3 separate regions of the Homo sapiens genome follow, and all the other regions are linked to region 2. The links come from fine-mapping of genetic effects on gene expression. A gene starts in region 2. Each other region holds a variant in brackets. All regions are shown on one strand. Distances are between the middles of the regions.

Region 1 (6,931 bases), 120 kb before region 2:
TCTCCCAAAAATACCTACAATAACCATCATGCTTGGAGAAAAGCTAAAAGCATTCCTGTTAAGACCACAAAAGAGCCTCTCCCAAAAATACCTGCAATAACCATCATGCTTGGAGAAAAATTAAAAGCATTCCTGCTAAGACCACGTCCCAGACTCTTCTGTATAACACCAAACTGGAGTTGCTAACCTGTGCAGTAAGACATGAAAAGAAAATATAAAGGAAGAAAGACACAGAAAACTCTTCTTAGTTACAAATGAAAATACTGTCTACATAGAAACCTGAAAAGAACCTATGGAAAATTATCAATAAGACATTTAAATAAAGTGGGTGGGTACAAAACCAGCATATAAACCTCAATTGCATTTCTATAAAGCAGCAACAACTAGCAAACACAAGTCTTAAAAAGATGCCACTTACAACAGCAACATCAACAAACACAGGTATATGATGCATACATATATGTAAATAAACTGGGAATAAATCTAACAAAGATGTATCCAAATGGCGCTTTTTTTTTTTTTGACGGAGTCTCACTTTGTTGCCAAGCTGGAGTGCAGAGGCACAATCTTGGCTCACTGCAACCTCCGCCTCCTGGGTTCAAGTGATTCTCCTGGCTCAGCCTCCTGAGTAATTGGGATTACAGGAGTGCACCACCACGCCTGGCTAATTTTTGTGTTTTTAGTAGAGATGGGATTTCACCATGTTGGCCAGGATGATCTCAATCTCTTGACCTCATGATCCCCCCGTCTCAGCTTCCCAAAGTGCTGGGATTATAGGCATGAGCCACCACGCCCGGATGAGCATTTTTTTGATAAAAGACTCAGTATCTTAGAGGTATGGTTCTCCCCCAAATTGTATACAGATTCAGCACAGTTCCAGTACAAAAAGAAATCCTTCCACTCTTTGATGTATTTCAGTGCAGTTCCATCATTTTCACCATAGAGGGATTATCACTCACTTGCCCTGTGATCTTGGACAAGGTCTTGAGTTTTCTCAGCTGAGAAAATAAAAGGATGGGAACAGAAGATCCCTAACCCCCCTCCTGTGCTGAAAGCCTAAGATCCTTCAGGAGGAAGAGGCAGGTGAGGTACATCTGACACTTCGGCGTGGCTCCTGCTGAGGGCAATGAAATGATAAACCAGGCTGGGGTGGGTCTGAGACTCCACCCTATGACCTTGGCATCTAACAGGAGGTAAAATGGAAAGCAAATCATGACACGTCCCAAACATTATGTAATCATTGTAAATAGCTTTTAAAGGATTACATAGACATGGAAAATATTCACGACATGTTAAGTGGGAAAAAAATCACACACATCCTATAATTACAATTCTAAAGGCAAAGACAAGATCCAGGAGGCAAGGCCGCTCAAACTCTTAAGTTTCACTGTTTGATACTGTTGAGAAGCACAATAATGACCAATGAGCAGAAAGAGCATCAGTAAACGCTCCCACTTTCTAAGTCCTCTGGCAGGAAGTCTTTATTTGCTTCCCGGAGTTAGGACTGCGGCATCAGGGGTTTCAGGCCTAGGATTTGGGGTATGGGGTGTGTCAGGCCTAGGATTTGGGGCATCGTGGGTTTCAGGCCTAGGATTTAGGGCATCGGGGATTTCAGGCCTAGGATTTGGGGCATCGGGGATTTCAGGCCTAGGATTTGGGGCATCGGGGATTTCAGGCCTAGGATTTGGGGCATCGGGGATTTCAGGCCTAGGATTTGGGGTATCGGGGGTTTCAGGCCTAGGATTTGGGGTATCGGGTGTTTCAGGCCTAGGATTTGGGGCATCAGGGATTTCAGGCCTAGGATTTGGGGCATTGGGGATTTCAGGCCTAGGATTTGGGGTATCGGGGATTTCAGACCTAGGATTTGGGGTATCGGGTGTTTCAGGCCTAGGATTTGGGGCATCAGGGATTTCAGGCCTAGGATTCGGGGTATCAGGGGTTTCAGACCTAGGATTTGGGGCATCAGGGATTTCAGGCCTAGGATTTGGGGTATCGGGTGTTTCAGGCCTAGGATTTGGGGTATCGGGTGTTTCAGGCCTAGGATTTGCTTCCTGTCAAGGTACATGTGTCTGGGAGCTGGGGATGCTTCACCTTCGTGCCTGGCTCCTGGGAACATCACCAGATCCTGGTCTGTCTGTCTGGGACAGTGCACACTTTCCCAGCCCACAGGCGAAGTTGATGCTCCTGGGAGCACTTCCACTCCCCGACAAGTCTCTTCCTGTGTCGTGGTTGCTTACTTATCGTTGTCTCACCCTAGAAGGCAAGCGCCCAAGGCCAGGGCTGAGTTTTTCTTGTTCAGAGCTGTGTCCCCAGCATTCCTGTCCACAGATGTTTGTTGAATGACTGAATGAATGTATAGGAATCAGAAGCATTGGGAGGGAGCAAAGGCCAGAGTTTTGCTAGAAAGTCTGAGGGTGCTGGCCCTAGAAATCCCCAAGGTCCCTCCCTCATGTCCTACGTCGTGGCTACCCTTAAGTCTGACATGCCCTGGGCCATGGCTTCCAATGTCAGGAAGAGGCCAGCCAGGTCCCAGCCATGTCTCCGGCCTTGACCTTGGGCTAGTCCTCTGTATGCCAGGTCCAGACCCTCTGCTTAAGTCCAAGTAGGTGAAGGTGAAGTCAGTCTTTCCGCTACCTGGCTCCAGCCCTTGGCCAGGCCCAGCCCCAGGTAGACCTTCCCCAGACACCTCTTCCTCTGTCAAAGCTCTGGAGAAACTTGCTGGGGCTCTGCCACCAGGCCCCTCCCCACCACCAGGCCCTGCCCTCCCAGGGTCCACCCCCTGGGTCTTACTTTGAGGCCTCCCTGTTTCAGATGGTCCCCTGCTGTGAAGTCCTGTCTTGGCCAAAAAGGGTGCATGTGGCAGGGTGATTAAGCCGTGGGGCCTGGTTATGGATGTGGAGTGGGGGTGCCTGTGCTGGGGCCGGAACACAGCAGCCACGTTCCTCCACACACGCACACAGCAGTAGCTGAGGTTGGCCCCATGCTGTCACGGGTGTTCTCACCTGTGCCTCTCCATAGTCGGGAAGCAGGAAAGTGAGGGTCATCCCGCAGTTCTAGATGAGGAGCCCAATGTGATGGGACTGCAAGTGGAGGAGCGGGACCTAGAGCCCAGGCTCCCGTTTCCCTGCCCAGGGCCCTCCCAGGGGCGCAACCTCTATGCACTGCTGTGTTGCTACCACCTCACTGCAGGAGCCAGAGGAGTGAGGACAGCCCCTTTGTGCCAACACTATGAATGAATGTATGGGAATCATAAGAAGATGACCAGGCCGTGTTGGAGCCAGGGGCCACATTGCCCCGCTTGAGTGTCCATCCACTGGCCCCTGACTCCTTTCCCCACCATGCCCCCAGCTGTTGCCAGCCCCACTCCCACCTGGGAAA[G/A]CAAGATTTGTGCAGGCCCCTCATTCCCCCGGCTCCTGCCTGGCCAGAGCCCACCACTGCACCACAGGATAAACATACATGCTGCGAAGGGAGACTTTGTGTGTGTCTCATGAGGCTCAACAACGGTGATGACCCCCGAGAAGATGCAATAAAAAGGACAACCTAGCCGGGTGCGGTGGCCCACGCCTGTAATCCCAGCACTTTGGGAGGCCGAGGTGGGCGGATCAAGAGGTCAGGAGATCGAGACCATCCTGGCTAACACGGTGAAACCCTGTCTCTACTAAAAATACAAAAAATTAGCTGGGTGTGGTGGTGGGCGCCTGTAGTCCCAGCTACTTGGGAGGCTGGGGCAGGAGAATGGCGTGAACCCGGGAGGTGGAGGTTGCAGTGAGCAGAGATAGCACCACTGCAGTCCGCCCTGGGCGAAAGAGCAAGACTCCGTCTCTCAAAAAAAAAAAAAAAAAAAAAAAAAAAAGACAACCTAATTTTGAAATTGGCAGAGGAATTGAACAGACATTTCTCCAAAGGAGCTATACAAATGGCCAAAGAGCCCATGAAAAGATGGCCAACAATGCTCCGTGCATCTTACAAACAAACCTTTTTAAAACCCAGCTAGGAAGTTCAGGGTCAAATCTGGAATTTCACACTGGCAACATTAGCTCAGGGAAGTGGTGGGGCAGCCCTCAGGCAGCTGAGCCATGCAGGAATGAGTATCCCGTGAAACATCAGCTGTCAAAGGCCCAGCCGACCCAGGAGGGTCACACTGCTTCCGCCTCAGTGCCGCCCTACCCTGGGCAGCTTCAGGATTCCAGAGGGGTCATGTGCTCTGAGGAGTGACCCTAAATGTGGCAGAGGGATCTAGTGACCGCCCAAAGCAAGCAGGACAGATCCCTGGAGTGCCAGCCCCTTTCCATGGGTGAAAGGTGATTCTGGTCTGCTGTTCTGGGTCCGAGGAAGGGCTGAAAAATGGGAGCAGAGGACCGTTCGAGCCCCTTCCCTGTCCCCAGATCCTCCTTCAGGGCTGCCAGTTGTTCTGTGCTCGTTCCATACATGCCTGCGGGGTCTGTCTCTGAATTTCCTGCATGACACGGTCAATCCAGGGGATAGTAAAAGGAAGGCAGAAGGTTTGCCCTGAATACTGGAAAAGAGTTCAAAAGTGTGTTAGTCTAGCATTTCTCTGGGGATATTTTGTAGATAGCCCACTTTTTTTTTTTTTTTTTTTTTGAGACAGAGTCTCGCTCTGTTGCTCAGGCTGGAGTGCAGTGGCGCGATCTCGGTTCACCACAACCTCCGCCTCCCAGGTTCAAGCAATTCTCCTGTCTCAGCCTCCGGAGTAACTGGGATTACAGGCGCCCGCCACCACGCTCAGCTAATTTTTGTATTTTAGTAGAGACAGGGTTTCACCATGTTGGCCAGGCTGGCCTGGAACTCCTGACCTCAAGCGATCCGCCCTCCTCGGCCTCCCAAAGTGCTGGGATTACAGGTGTGAGCCACTGCGCCCGGCCGATATCCCACTTTGCTGAAGGCTTTTGTGATCTAATATATTTGGAAAATACTAATGCCATTTTTTTTAAAGAAGGCTTTTTGTTGTTGTTGTTTCAAGTCTACACAGATCCCTGAATATGCAAAACTGCCCTGGATTTTTCCAAGAGAAAAATTTGCACCGTTTCACAAACTCACTTTTTGGAGGGACTTTGTCTCAGTGAACCATGAGGTATCAGTGTTCCATGAAATATACATGAGGGAATCCCAATCTAGCCCTGTTCCTTCATCTTGCAGACGGGGAGACCAAGGCAAGAGGGAGTGGTAGACAGCTGATTAAGGCCACACAGAGAACCAGGATGAGGGCCCTGGTCCCCAGGTGGCTGTCTCTCAGTTCCTTCCCCTGTTCTTACATCATTTGCTGGGCTAGTGCAAAATGAAAATGCAAGATCCCTTGTTCAAACCCTAGTAAGAATTTCAAGATGGTGATCGCAGGGCATTGCAGCAGGTGCAGGCCCGTCTAGGCACGCTGGGCTCGCCTGTGCAGCCGGCTCTGCTCCCTCAGCAGCCCAGAAGGGCCCTAGAGGACACTCCCCTGAGCACAAACCCAAACACCCCAGCTCTGCTCCTCACTAGCCCAGCCACCTGGGATACAGCACTCAGTCTCTCTGAGCCTCAGTTTCCACTTCCTGAAAGTGGGGTTGTAATGTCACCTGTTTCACTGCTGTGGAGGAGTGGTTGCACAACATTGCAAACAGAAATCAGGGCCGGGAATGGTGGCTCACACCTGGAATCCCAGCACTTTCGGAGGCTGAGGCGGGTGGATCACCTGAGGTCAGGAGTTCGAGACCAGCCTGGCCCACATGGCAAAACCAGTCTGTACTAAAAGTACAAAAAATAGCTGGGCATGGTGGTGCATGCCTGTAATTCCAGCTACTCAGGAGGCTGAGACAAGAGAATTTCTTGAACCCAGGAGGCGGAAGTTGCAGCGAGCTGAGATCACTGCGCTCCAGCCTGGGCGACAGAACAAGACTCTATCTCAAAAAAAAAAAAAAAAAAAGAGAGAGAAATCATTTCCAGTCTTATTCAAAATTTAAAAAGATCCAAGCCTGTGCCTAGAGGGGGCTAGGCCTGCCCACTTCTTGGACCCTAGAGCCTCGAAATCCCCTCCGCCTTTGGCCTGGGGTCTTTGTTCAGTTGTATTGCTATAAAGGAATACTTGAGGCTGGGTAATTGCTAAGAAAAGAGGTTCATTTGGCTCATGGTTCTGCAGGCTGTACAGGAATCATGGTGCTGGCATCTGCTTCTGGTGAGGCCTCAGGAAGCTTCCACTCACCTTGGCAGAAGGCAATGGGAAGCTGGCGAGAGAGGAAGGAAGAGAGAGCAGAGGGCCCAGATCTTCAACCATCAGTTCTCACACAAACTAATAGTGAGAACTCACTCATTACCAGGAGAACGCACCAAGTCATTCATGAAGGATTCGCCTCCATGACCCAAACAACTCCCACCAGGACCCTCCTCCAAGCTTGGGGGTCTAATTCCAACATGGGATTTGGAGAAGACATGGGAACTGTACCCAAAACATGGCAGCTGGATGCTTCTGAACACACTGACGGTGGCTGCTACCAAGAGGGAGAGCGAAGTCACAACAATACCGGCCTGCAGGTTCACCTCCCCATACCAGGCACTTTACAGCACCATTTCCAATTCCCGGGAAACAGGGCCACAAACATAGGAGGCAAGACTCCATTCCAGGTCCGTCTGCTCTGAGGCCTCCATTCCCTCCTCTATATGGGGGGTTTAGTTTCCCACCTTACTTAAAGCCTGTCTGCACTAAGTAAACTCAGTGAGAAAGGCAGGGTGCCCAGTGCCTGGGTACAGCAAAGGCTAAATGCATTTGGCAGTTATTGCTAGTATCATTTTTTGTTTTGTTTTGCTTTTTATGAGATAGACTCTTGTTCTGTCACCCAGGCTGGCGTTCAGTGGCACGATCTTGGCTCAGTGCAACCTCTGCCTCCTGGGCTCAAGCTGTTCTCCTGCCTCAGCCTCCCGAATAGCTGGGATTACAGGC
Region 2 (6,931 bases):
TGCAGGTCCCTCGACACTCCACCAGGGTGGCTTTCGTAACCAACAGAATGTGGAGGAACAGCACAAAGCTCCTGAGTCTAGGGATAAAAGCCAGTGTCACTTGCCTCACCAGCTCTCTTGGACCACTCGCTCTTGAATGTCACGAGGACACACAAGCAGCCCCATGGAGACGTCCATGCCCACAGTCAGGTGACAGCACCACCTTGGAGGCAGATCCTCCAAGCCCAGTCAAGCCTTCAGGTGACACGGCTCTGGCTGACACCCTGAGCCAGGACCACCCAGCAAAGCTGCTCCTGAGTTCCCAACCCTCAGAAACATGTGAGATCATCCATATTTGCTGTGTTAAGCCCATGAATTTTGTGGTGATCTGTTTCACAGCATCGAACATCCAATATAGTCATAACTGCCTCAACTCAGACTTTGCCACTAAGGGCCACTTATCTGTAAGGGCCAATCTAGGACAAAGGGCAAGAAGAGAAAAAAAAAAATCATAAAGTTAATGAAATTTCAACGTAAACATAAATGGAATATGTTCACATGACAGAGGGCACCCATTCTTTGGCTTAGTACATGAGCCAGCACCATGACACTCCCAAGTAAACTAAGGAGACCAGGGACTTGTTTTCTTTTATCCAGCATGCATAATTTAATTGTATCTACCTACAGCAAAATGCACTCTTGGTTCTGTACTAAGAATATTTCTCCAGCAACAGTCCATCTAGTCCATTAACTCCCATGCAAAGGCACTGTGATTTTTTTTGTTTATTTTTTGGAGATGGAGTTTCATCCTGTCGCCCAGGCTGCAGTGCAATGGCACGGTCCCGGCTTACCACAACCTCTGCCTCCCAGGTTCAAGCGAGTCTCATACCTCAGCCTCCCAAGTGGCTGGGATTACAGGCATGCACCACCATGCCCAGCTAATTCAGTATTTTTAGTAGAGACAGGGTTTCACCATGTTGGTCAGGCTGGTCTCCAACTCCTGACCTCAAGGCGATCCACCCACCTCAGACTCCCAAAGTGCTGGGATTACAGGTGTGAGTCACCGCGCCCATCCGGCACTGTGATTTTAAAAGGCCTGACAATTCTTACTCCATCACACTGAATATCGAAATAAATTATAAATTGTAAATGAAGAGGCTTCATCTCCAGATGGGGGTTCCCACTTACCTCAGACCCGATTTTGGCTCCATGCAGCGTGCCATGCTGCCTTCCCTCCATCACACCCAAACTACTGCCTTCTTCATAGCCTTCCCGATACCCTTCCCCATGAAACCTGTGAAGAAGAAGCATGCTTCATCAAATCAACAGGAGAAAGAATACTTTCTCCAGAAAAACTTCTCTCTCTTGTATTACCCGGACCCAGTAAGACAAACCAGAGTAAAGGAGGAAAAGCCTAAAATTCAAGTCAGAAGACACAGATTCCAGTCCCAGATCTACCACTTCCTATTTGCCTCTGGAAGTCACTGTACCTCTTGTAGCCCAGTTTCTTCATCTACAACAAAGGGCTAAATTAGGGATTCCCAAACCTGATAGGGTACTAGAAACACACAAGGAAAATTCAAAGATATTAACTCAAAAGCCTCACCCCCAGAGATTCAGTACGTCTGGAGCAAGGCCCTGGAATCTACTTTTCTTTCTTCCTTTTTTTTTTTTTTTTTTTTGAGACAGGGTCTCTGTTGCCCTGCCTGGAGTGCAGTGGTATGATCACAGCTCACTATAGCCTCAAACTCCTGGGCTCAAGCGATCCTCCAGCTTTGGCCGCTCCAAGTGTTGGGATTACAAGTGAGGGCCACCGCACCTGGCCTGCAATCCACTTTTCTTTTCTTGAGATGGAGTCTCGCTTTGTCGCCCAGGCTGGAGTGCAGTGGTGCGATCTCGGCTCACTGCAAGCTCTGCTTCCCGGGTTCACGCTCTCCTGCCTCAGCCTCCCAAGTAGCTGAGACTACAGGCGCCCACCACCACATCCGGCTAATTTTTTGTATTTTTAGTAGAGACGGGGTTTCACCATGTTAGCTAGGATGGTCTGGATCTCCTGACCTCGTGATCCGCCCGCCTCGGCCTCCCAAAGTGCTGGGATTACAGGCGTCAGCCACCGCATCTGGCCCGGAATCTACTTTTCAAAGTCTCCTAGATAAGTCTGGTTTGCAGCCAGAGTTAGGGGGCCAAAGTTCTGTGAGTGTTCAAGTAGCACTAGCCCAAGTCAACCGCTTCCAAAAAACTGCAACATACACAGGGTTTGACATCACATGGGTAGGGCAACAGAGAGAAATGGCATCAGATCACCACAAAATGTTCTCCGACTGGTACCCGGAGTAGCACTGACCCTGAGGCCCAACAGTGGAACTGCCACTATCTTAACCTGCAGTCACCAAACATGCAAGGAGTGGGCTGCAGCGCCCCATGAAGCAGGGTGCATAGCTCCCCACTTAATAGTTGTGTGACCCTGGAAAGTGACTGTGCCTCCTAGTCTGTAAATTCCGAAGAATAATAGGATCCACTTACTAAGTAGGGCTGAAGTAGATAACCAGGGTGGAACGTTTAGCTCAGTGTCTGACTCACAGCGCGAGCTAAATAAACGTCAGCGCCTGACTGCTAAATGTTCGGCCGCTTTCTTAACTAACATCTATGGACGCGTCCTCTGGGCCGGGCACTGGAAGTCAGCCAGGAGGCAACTCACAGCTCCCCCACTGTCGCAGCACGAGGGGCTCCCCAGGGGCTCTGGAGGGAAAAGGGGTGTGGTCGGGTACATCTATCAGCACATCCATGAATACTGCCGTATGTCCTATGATTAAGGAACCAGAAAAAAAGGCAGCTCCCAGATGGCAAAGGTCTGTCCTCCCAGAGGACGAGGCGGCCTCGGAGGAGGGGAACCACCAGGCTGAGCAGATGTTTGGGGCAGCCCTGACAGGGAAGGCGGGTCTGGAAGAGCAGCTGGGCACGTGCCCCGCCGGAGCGGGCCAGGAGAAGAGGACCAGAGCATCAGGCCCACACTTGTCCCTGCGTCCACGGCCACCAGGCGCTCCCCAATGCGCACGCCCAAGGGACGCCAGGCTCCAGCAGCCGCCCTGGGCCGCAGCCGGCGGCGAAGCCGCTGGGAGACGACCAGACAGGGCGGGGTGCGGGCCCGGCCTCACCACCCACCTCTCATCCGCCATCACGATGGCATCGAATATGTCCTGACTGCCAGCCATAGCGGCAAGCAGCCCGCCCTTGGCCCCCGGGTTTCTGCAGCCCCGCGGTGCCGTAGCAGACCCGGCAGCTTCAGGCACAAATGCTCCGCTTGGGAGGAGACGAGACCCACTTCCGGAAGCGGCGGCGCGGGGCAGGCCGGGTAAGAACGGCACGCGGGAGGGCCCAAAGCAGCCTGTACATGGCGCATGCGCGGCTGCAGCGGTGGGCGGGGCCGGCCTCGACTGAAGCCCCGCCCTGGGGTCCTTTCGCCCTGCCCAGCTCCAGCAAAGGGCCTGTCTGTCCGCGCTGGGAGCGTCCATTGGCCGCGCGCGTGGAGAGCCGACCTGTATTTTACCACTGCAGATAGAACCGAATTTCCCAAAGTGGCTCCGAAAGAACCAAGGAAGAAATGGGAAGTCATCAGCTGGCGCGGTGGCTCACGCCTGTCATCCCAGCACTTTGGGAGGCCGAGGCGCGCGGATCACCTGAGTTCGGGAGTTCGAGACCAGCCTGGCCAACATGGTGAAACCTCGTCTTTACTGAAAATACAAAAATTAGCCGGGCATGGTGGCAGGCGCCTGTAATCCCAGCTACTCGGGAGGCTGAGGCAGGAGAATCACTGGAAGCTGGGAGGCGGAGGTTGCAGTGAGCCGAGATCGCACCACTGCACTCCAGACTGGCGACAGAGCCAGACTCCGTCAAAAAAAAAAAAAAAAAGGGAAAAGAAATGGGAAGTCATCAAAGAACCGACGCCTCAGGAGGCTCCAGGCCAGGAGGCTCTGCATGTGGGATTTTGGGCAGAAATTTGTCGGTTTTAGTTCTCATATTTGTCATTTCCATGAGATGTGCTTTCTGAACACGATTTTTAAAAAGGGATTTCAAAGTCTAAGCGACAACGGAACTCAGATGAGAAACACCAGAAGCATTCCTAATAAAGTCAGTAGTAAAACCTCACGTGACCACTGAACATCTTTCTACCAGCCCTGGCCAATGCAGTAAAACATGAAGCAAGAAGTGGAAATACCAAAAAAAAAAAAAAAAAAAAAAAAAGGCAGAAATACTACTATTTGCAGATATGATGGCCCACGTGGAAAACCCAAATAGTCACCTAAGACGTTCTCAGAATCCATAATCGCAGCAAGTAGCTATGTGTATGATGAATAGGGAAAAAAACACTTTCTGTTATTCCAACAATAATTGGTAGTAACCTGAGCAGGGGTGGTGATGGGAAAATCGCCTTATGATAGTCATAATACATTTCTTAGAAATAAGAATTTCTAACAATTTGAGCAGGACCCATATAAGGAAAACTACAGCTCTACCATGATTGAGGATTGGGGAACTGAACAAGTGCAGTACCAAAGAAAATTCCATGAGATCTGGTAAAATGTGTCAAAATCCTAAACTTTTTCATCCGTATGAATAAACTAATAAAAATAACTAAGATGTTTTAGAAAAAAATGATTTTCATATCAGATATGAAAAGATAAAGTGTCAATATAAATATTGTGGTATGTTGGTTCAAGAAGTGGCAGACCAGTGAAATAAAGTAAATGGCCCAGACAATGGACTCTCATAGATGTAAAGCCTTCTCATGTGGTAAAAAGAAGAATTACAAATTAATTGGAGAAAGGAAATATTAACTAATAACTATAATGGAAAATTGGTTGTTTGGGAAAAGCTTGGTTCCATTTATGCCTCACACCATTCATCAAAATAATTCCAGATGAGTTAAAGAGTTAACTTAAAAAAATTAAGCACATTGGCTGGGCACGGTGGCTCACGCCTGTAATCCCAGCACTTTGGGAGGCCCAGGCAGGTGGATAACCAGAGTTAGGGAGTTCGAGACCAGCCTGACCAACATGGAGAAACCCCGTCTGTACTAAAACTACAAAATTAGCCTGGCGTGGTGGTGCATGCCTGTAAGCCCAGCTACTCGGGAGGCTGAGGCAGGAGAACCCAGGAGACAGAGGTTGCAGTGAGCCGAGATCACACCATTGCACCCCAGCCTGGGCAACAAGAGCAAAACTCCATCTCTAAATAAATAAATGAATAAAGCACATTTTGCCTGTAATCCCAGCACTTTGGGAGGCCGAGGCGGGCGGATCATGAGGTCAGGAGATCGAGACCATCCTGGCTAACATGGTGAAACCCCGTCTCTACCAAAAAATACAAAAAAAAAAAATTAGTGGGGCATGGTGACGTGTACCTGTAGTCCCAGCTACTTGGGAGGCTGAGGCAGGAGAATGGCATGAACCTGGGAAGTGGAGCTTGCAATGAGCCGAGATCGCGCTACTCTACTCCAGCCTGGGTGACAGAGCGAGACTCTATCTCAAAAAAAATAAAATAAAATAAAAATAAATAAATAAATAAATAAAATAAAGTACATTAAAAAATCTAGGTGGAACATTCAGACAAGTATGAAGATGCTCTTTTAACACATAAAAGCCATGAAGGAATTCTCAGCAAGCAAAACCAACATTTTACCATGTAAAAATGCAAACTTGTGTGTACCAAAAGTGATAAGAAACAAAATTTAAAGTTAAAGAACAATATGGGGAAATATTTGTCATAAATATTGTAACTAAAGAAATAATAATTCTGGTAAAGAGTTTATTTAAATACATGTATTTATTTAAATAAATACATCCTAACGGGGAAAAAAAAGGACTTGAAACATTATTCACAGAAAGAGCAACAGCTGGCCAATCAGGAAAAGCAGACGCAGCCTCACTAGTAACCAAAGCAATGCTGAGAAAGAATAATGAGATGCATTTTTTATCTTTTAAAATAGCTTAAGTTCTTTTTCTCCTTTTTTAGAATTAAAAGATACTCTTAATGAGCACAAGTGCATACATTGAAGACACCTCTTGGTCAGGCAGTTCAAAAACATAGGAAGGGCATTATATATATATATATTTTGTTTGTTTGTTTGTTTGTTTGTTTGTTTGTTTTTACTAGCTAGGCGTGGTGGGTCACGCCTGTAATCCCAGCACTTTGGGAAGTCAAGGTGGGTGGATCACCTGAGGTCACCAGTTCCAGATCAGCCTGGCCAAACAGTGAAACTTCGTCTCTACTAAAAACAAAAATTAGCCGGGTGTGGTGGCACGCTCCTGTAGTCCCAGCTATTCTAGAGGCTGAGGCAGGAGAATTGCTTGAACCTGGGAGGTGGAGGTTGCAGTGAGCCGAGATTGTGCCACTGCACTCCAGACTGGGCGACAGAATGAGACTCTGCCTCAAAAATAGAATAAAAAAGTTTTTTTTTGCCCCTGGACCTAGTCATTTCACTTCTAAGACTTCATCTCTAGGAAATAATCAAAGACAAGTCAAAATATTATGTACAGTGTTGTTCAGTGCAACACGATTTGTAAAAGGCAAGGCAAGGAAAGCAGCTACATTGACAAAATGGTGGAATTATGACATGTATTGTAGGCTATTCATGTTGAAGACTCCTAAGCAACCATTACAAATAATATTTCAACAAAAGTAACATCATGGAAAATGCCCATGATATTTCAAGAAAAAGAAAAAAAAATCCTCTATGTGAGGCTGCAGTGAGCTATGACCATACCACTCCACTGCAGCCAGGCCAGGGCAACAGAGTGAAATCTCATCTCAAAAACATAAAAAGAAAGAAAAAGAAAAAGAAAAAAAAACACTCTACATATACTCGAATTGCAATCACACTAAACACTATTTCAAAAGAATGAGAGTAGCCAGGTGAGGTGACTCACACGTATAATCCAACACTTTGGGAGGC
Region 3 (6,931 bases), 22 kb before region 2:
GTTGGGACACACACAGCCCCAACACATGGAGCCGGTTCTCCATCCAGAAGCCCCCGGGCAGTAAGCAGCCACTTCAGGCTGCGTGGGACTTGCCCGTGGTGGAGCCTAGGAGAGGCCCCTGGCTGGGCGTGGCGTTCCAGATTTCACGGCTGCTCTTTCCCACTGACAGTGTGGTGTGGACGCTGCCAAGGGAGTCTGGAGCCCCAGAGGGTGGAGGTGCAGGACTTCCAGGAGCGTCCGTCGCACTCCACCCGAGGGCGAGCACCTCAGTGGCCGCAGTGGGTGGATGCATGCTGTGCCAGGCTGATGGCTGGCCCCGGGGCACAGGCCTGAGCGGGAGAGGATGGAGGGGAGGGATCAATGGTCCAGGTCCCCCTGGCCACCCAGCATTCATCCTCAGTCATGCACGGCCCAAGGCTTCGACAGCCATTGATCATGGAAGGCCAGGTTCACCTCAAGGGCTGCCACATGGAGAGGTTAAGTCTGAAAAGGCTGAAAAGGCAGGGTTCAAAGGGCCTCCTGTCCAGATCAGATGGCACTGAATTCCCCAGGGAGCTGGCACGGCCAGTGGGAACAGGCGGTGAAGGCGCTGTTGGACATGGGGACGGGCAGGGGGTGTGCAGGGTGGGCGGGCAAGCATCTGGTGTCTTGTGGCTCCAGAGACCAGGTGGGAGGTGGAGGCATTTGGTCCTGAGTGTCCTGACAGGTGATGGCAGCTCCCACATCTCGCTCAGGTTCAGAGGAGGCAGCATGGGCCGAGGGACAGTTTTTGGCTTAGTCTTGCTCTTATAAAGGCTTCCGGGTCATGGCACCTGGGAAGGGGCCCTCGCTGCAGGCCCCTTCTAAGGACCCCCTCTTCCCACCTCTCCCCACCCTCTCTCTCTCAGGACTGCCTCCGGGCCTGCCAGGAGCAGATCGAAGCCCTGCTGGAGTCAAGCCTGCGCCAGGCCCAGCAGAACATGGACCCCAAGGCCGCCGAGGAGGAGGAAGAGGAGGAGGAGGAGGTGGACCTGGCTTGCACACCCACCGACGTGCGGGACGTGGACATCTGAGGGCGCCAGGCAGGCGGGCGCCACCGCCACCCGCAGCGAGGGCGGAGCCGGCCCCAGGTGCTCCCCTGACAGTCCCTCCTCTCCGGAGCATTTTGATACCAGAAGGGAAAGCTTCATTCTCCTTGTTGTTGGTTGTTTTTTCCTTTGCTCTTTCCCCCTTCCATCTCTGACTTAAGCAAAAGAAAAAGATTACCCAAAAACTGTCTTTAAAAGAGAGAGAGAGAAAAAAAAAATAGTATTTGCATAACCCTGAGCGGTGGGGGAGGAGGGTTGTGCTACAGATGATAGAGGATTTTATACCCCAATAATCAACTCGTTTTTATATTAATGTACTTGTTTCTCTGTTGTAAGAATAGGCATTAACACAAAGGAGGCGTCTCGGGAGAGGATTAGGTTCCATCCTTTACGTGTTTAAAAAAAAGCATAAAAACATTTTAAAAACATAGAAAAATTCAGCAAACCATTTTTAAAGTAGAAGAGGGTTTTAGGTAGAAAAACATATTCTTGTGCTTTTCCTGATAAAGCACAGCTGTAGTGGGGTTCTAGGCATCTCTGTACTTTGCTTGCTCATATGCATGTAGTCACTTTATAAGTCATTGTATGTTATTATATTCCGTAGGTAGATGTGTAACCTCTTCACCTTATTCATGGCTGAAGTCACCTCTTGGTTACAGTAGCGTAGCGTGCCCGTGTGCATGTCCTTTGCGCCTGTGACCACCACCCCAACAAACCATCCAGTGACAAACCATCCAGTGGAGGTTTGTCGGGCACCAGCCAGCGTAGCAGGGTCGGGAAAGGCCACCTGTCCCACTCCTACGATACGCTACTATAAAGAGAAGACGAAATAGTGACATAATATATTCTATTTTTATACTCTTCCTATTTTTGTAGTGACCTGTTTATGAGATGCTGGTTTTCTACCCAACGGCCCTGCAGCCAGCTCACGTCCAGGTTCAACCCACAGCTACTTGGTTTGTGTTCTTCTTCATATTCTAAAACCATTCCATTTCCAAGCACTTTCAGTCCAATAGGTGTAGGAAATAGCGCTGTTTTTGTTGTGTGTGCAGGGAGGGCAGTTTTCTAATGGAATGGTTTGGGAATATCCATGTACTTGTTTGCAAGCAGGACTTTGAGGCAAGTGTGGGCCACTGTGGTGGCAGTGGAGGTGGGGTGTTTGGGAGGCTGCGTGCCAGTCAAGAAGAAAAAGGTTTGCATTCTCACATTGCCAGGATGATAAGTTCCTTTCCTTTTCTTTAAAGAAGTTGAAGTTTAGGAATCCTTTGGTGCCAACTGGTGTTTGAAAGTAGGGACCTCAGAGGTTTACCTAGAGAACAGGTGGTTTTTAAGGGTTATCTTAGATGTTTCACACCGGAAGGTTTTTAAACACTAAAATATATAATTTATAGTTAAGGCTAAAAAGTATATTTATTGCAGAGGATGTTCATAAGGCCAGTATGATTTATAAATGCAATCTCCCCTTGATTTAAACACACAGATACACACACACACACACACACACACAAACCTTCTGCCTTTGATGTTACAGATTTAATACAGTTTATTTTTAAAGATAGATCCTTTTATAGGTGAGAAAAAAACAATCTGGAAGAAAAAAACCACACAAAGACATTGATTCAGCCTGTTTGGCGTTTCCCAGAGTCATCTGATTGGACAGGCATGGGTGCAAGGAAAATTAGGGTACTCAACCTAAGTTCGGTTCCGATGAATTCTTATCCCCTGCCCCTTCCTTTAAAAAACTTAGTGACAAAATAGACAATTTGCACATCTTGGCTATGTAATTCTTGTAATTTTTATTTAGGAAGTGTTGAAGGGAGGTGGCAAGAGTGTGGAGGCTGACGTGTGAGGGAGGACAGGCGGGAGGAGGTGTGAGGAGGAGGCTCCCGAGGGGAAGGGGCGGTGCCCACACCGGGGACAGGCCGCAGCTCCATTTTCTTATTGCGCTGCTACC[G/T]TTGACTTCCAGGCACGGTTTGGAAATATTCACATCGCTTCTGTGTATCTCTTTCACATTGTTTGCTGCTATTGGAGGATCAGTTTTTTGTTTTACAATGTCATATACTGCCATGTACTAGTTTTAGTTTTCTCTTAGAACATTGTATTACAGATGCCTTTTTTGTAGTTTTTTTTTTTTTTATGTGATCAATTTTGACTTAATGTGATTACTGCTCTATTCCAAAAAGGTTGCTGTTTCACAATACCTCATGCTTCACTTAGCCATGGTGGACCCAGCGGGCAGGTTCTGCCTGCTTTGGCGGGCAGACACGCGGGCGCGATCCCACACAGGCTGGCGGGGGCCGGCCCCGAGGCCGCGTGCGTGAGAACCGCGCCGGTGTCCCCAGAGACCAGGCTGTGTCCCTCTTCTCTTCCCTGCGCCTGTGATGCTGGGCACTTCATCTGATCGGGGGCGTAGCATCATAGTAGTTTTTACAGCTGTGTTATTCTTTGCGTGTAGCTATGGAAGTTGCATAATTATTATTATTATTATTATAACAAGTGTGTCTTACGTGCCACCACGGCGTTGTACCTGTAGGACTCTCATTCGGGATGATTGGAATAGCTTCTGGAATTTGTTCAAGTTTTGGGTATGTTTAATCTGTTATGTACTAGTGTTCTGTTTGTTATTGTTTTGTTAATTACACCATAATGCTAATTTAAAGAGACTCCAAATCTCAATGAAGCCAGCTCACAGTGCTGTGTGCCCCGGTCACCTAGCAAGCTGCCGAACCAAAAGAATTTGCACCCCGCTGCGGGCCCACGTGGTTGGGGCCCTGCCCTGGCAGGGTCATCCTGTGCTCGGAGGCCATCTCGGGCACAGGCCCACCCCGCCCCACCCCTCCAGAACACGGCTCACGCTTACCTCAACCATCCTGGCTGCGGCGTCTGTCTGAACCACGCGGGGGCCTTGAGGGACGCTTTGTCTGTCGTGATGGGGCAAGGGCACAAGTCCTGGATGTTGTGTGTATCGAGAGGCCAAAGGCTGGTGGCAAGTGCACGGGGCACAGCGGAGTCTGTCCTGTGACGCGCAAGTCTGAGGGTCTGGGCGGCGGGCGGCTGGGTCTGTGCATTTCTGGTTGCACCGCGGCGCTTCCCAGCACCAACATGTAACCGGCATGTTTCCAGCAGAAGACAAAAAGACAAACATGAAAGTCTAGAAATAAAACTGGTAAAACCCCAGCGTGGTGCCTGCCTCTTTGCTTCCTGGGCTGGCCGTGAGCCAGGGACGCGTGTCCTGGTGCCCTAGAACCAGGGCAGGGTGGCAGGCTTGGCGGATGTGGGAGGCCGCAGCCTGTCCTGTGCGCTGTGGGAAGTTCAGCAGCATCCTGACCTCCATCCCCGGGATGACAGTCACGCCACCCGCCGTGACAACCAAGAATGTCTCCTGACACTGCCACATCCCCGGGGGTGGGGACAGAATCCAGCCAGGAGCAGGCACACCCCTCCCAACTGGGAGGAAGCCCTCAGCACAGGTGTGTGAGGTGGGAGGCGGTGTCCTGTCCCCGGGAGGCTCCAGAGAATAATTTGCAGGCTGCCTGGCTGGGTGAGCCCACCTCCAACCACGCGAGACAACAGCTCCGGCCTGGGTGACGTGAGCGGTGCCCATTGATGGGGAACATCTTCCCCCTCTTCCTTGCCCCACCAGTTTGTCTTCCCGGGTTATTTGCAGATAGGAAAATAAATAAAGCCGGCATTCGTTAACCCTCTTCTGGCGCAAACTGCTGTTTGCTCTGGATGAATCATGGTCCTTTGGCGACGCCAGGCTCCGGGAGAGCAAAGCACCGTGTCAGGGCCATGATCCGGGGTGGCCTTTCACTGGGATCGTGGGGACCTGGAGGCCGCCTTATAGGACACCCATGACGCCCACCTCTGGATTTCAGGTGCACGTGACTGGACTTAACTTCAAACCCCAGGGTGGAGGCAGGTAGTGGGAGTGCCCTGGGAAGGTGTCCTCGGACCTTGGTCACTGCTCCTGAACCCATCTGTGAGGCTGGTTTGTCCTCATCCCAAGCTAAGTGGAAGCTCAGGTCCCAAGCCACCGATGGGTGCTACTTGTCAGCTGCAGGTTGAATCTCCGTGGCCTTTATGAAGCACCTGCTGTCTACCCTTCCTGCCTTGTAGAGCACTCCTCCCAGGGCTCAACAGTGGGGCCGGGGTGGTCGGTGTGTTGGCTCCACAGGCGCCTGCCCTGGGAGGAAGGTGGGGTGTGGAGGGAAACGCTTGGCCCCTGTAGGTCTCCACCAGCCTCTCCCCTGAGGGTGGGGGCTCCGGGAGCCTTCCTCGAGGGAGTCCTATATTGAGTGGGTGGGGGAGCCTGCAAGGTGCCCCTGACAGGTCACATCAGAAAGAGCTCAAGGGACAGTCGGAGCCAGAGGTGACACTGGTGGCCACTCGGGTGGCTCACAAGGCCCAGCTCCTCCTTGCTCCTGGGCAAATTACTCTGAAGGCAGGGACCAGGTCTGCACCATTGCGGCTCTCCAGTTCCAGGCAATGGCCAGGTCCTGTGTCAGGGCTGGGGTCCTAGGGAAGCCATGTCCCCACCCCCGGCCTGCAGCTGGGTTTACATTCATCCCCCGAGAGCACATGGGTGTAGCAGGAGGCCTGTGCAGAGAGCTCCGACCATCGCACAGGGCACCTTTGGTTGTTTCACGGAGCAGGCAAGGGAGCCATCGGATCCTGTTAGGTTTGAGCAAGGATGTGGGGAAGAAGCTGGAGAGCCACTTTGCCATGCAGGGAGAGGAGCACATGGGTCTAGGGATCTACTTTAGTGTTTGGAAGGTTTTTTAAGATGAAAGAGGGATGTGTAGGCTGATAGGTCTGGCAGAGCCAAAAGGCAGCGACATGTCTACTGGGAGAGATGGAGCTGAGCGCGGGGCTCAGGCAGGGTGGCAGGGCAGGGCCGGGGCCCTGGGTGGGTCAGGTGGGTTCACAGCCAAGTGTGTAGAGAGGGCTTGGGCCCAGAGTGAAGCAGTTGCAAGCTCTCCCACAACCCATTCTCTCTGTCTCGGCATCTGTGGCATCCCGTGATGGGTGGGTCTGTACACACCCCACCCCTGGCTGTGCCACAATGGGGGTGTCTGTACACCCCTCACCCCTGGCTGTGCCACGATGGGGGGGTCTGTACACCCCCCATCCCTGGCTGTGCCACGATGGGGGGTTCTGTACATCCCCCAGTGATGGGTGGGTCTATACATCGTGGTTATGCCACGAGCTCCAAGGCTGTATCAGTCCGTTTTCACACTGCTAACAAAGACATACCCGAGACTGGGTAATTTATAAAGAAAAAGAGGTTTAATAGACTCACAGTTCTACGTAGCTGGGAGGCCTCACCATCACGGCGGAAGGCGAAAGGCCCGTCTTCCATGGCAGCAGGCAAGAGAGAATGAGACTCAAGTGAAAGGGGAAACCCCTATAAAACCATCAGATCTGCTGAGACTTGTTCACCACCATGGGAACAGTATAGGGGAAACTGCCCCATGATTCAATCACCTCCCACCGGGTCCCTCCCACAACACGTGGGAATTATGGGAGCTACAATTCAAGATGAGATTTGGGTGGGGACACAGCCAAACCATATCAAAGGCATCGTCTGGCCACTCTAGGCCCTTGTTCCCAACTCTCAAACTCCACTGACATCACCTCTGTGCCTGCAACCCCTCCTGGGATTCAGTGGAGACCTCGTCCCTTGTTGGAGTATCTGCGCTACCCAGAGGGTGATGGTAAAAACTGACCTTTGAGGAACTTCAGAGACAAAGCCTTCCGCAGTCAGCTCTCCCTGCAGCCCCTTCGCAGAAGCCTGTCCTCACACGCCCGCCACCCCTACCTGCCCTGCCTCCTGGCCCATCTCCCTGCAGCCAGACAGTCCT

The links. PIP is the estimated chance that this variant, and not a neighbour inherited with it, causes the effect.
Region 1: its variant is the best candidate, but not a certain one, in a credible set for the expression of LTO1 in whole blood (TOPMed, PIP 0.85).
Region 3: its variant is the best candidate, but not a certain one, in a credible set for the expression of LTO1 in whole blood (TOPMed, PIP 0.88).

Annotation. Positions count from the first base shown.
Region 1 is chr11:69,550,954-69,557,884 of GRCh38, forward strand. No RefSeq gene overlaps it. Among named protein-coding and RNA genes, the nearest start is that of LINC01488, 73 kb to the left of the region's middle. RefSeq lists enhancers at 1,325-1,469, 4,791-4,935, 5,849-5,993 and cis regulatory regions at 1,397, 4,863, 5,921. The variant G/A (reference allele first, on the strand shown) is at 3,379.
Region 2 is chr11:69,672,049-69,678,979 of GRCh38, forward strand. It overlaps LTO1 (LTO1 maturation factor of ABCE1), which reads right to left and starts at 3,305. Exons shown (of 5, transcript NM_153451.3): 1 at 3,142-3,305; 2 at 1,168-1,273. The coding sequence starts at 3,191. RefSeq lists a silencer at 2,887-2,976 and enhancers at 3,097-3,597, 3,467-3,666.
Region 3 is chr11:69,650,231-69,657,161 of GRCh38, forward strand. CCND1 (cyclin D1) reads left to right here. Exons shown (of 5, transcript NM_053056.3): 5 at 888-4,244. The coding sequence ends at 1,052. Among named protein-coding and RNA genes, the nearest start is that of CCND1, 13 kb to the left of the region's middle. RefSeq lists an enhancer at 4,700-5,637. The variant G/T (reference allele first, on the strand shown) is at 3,022.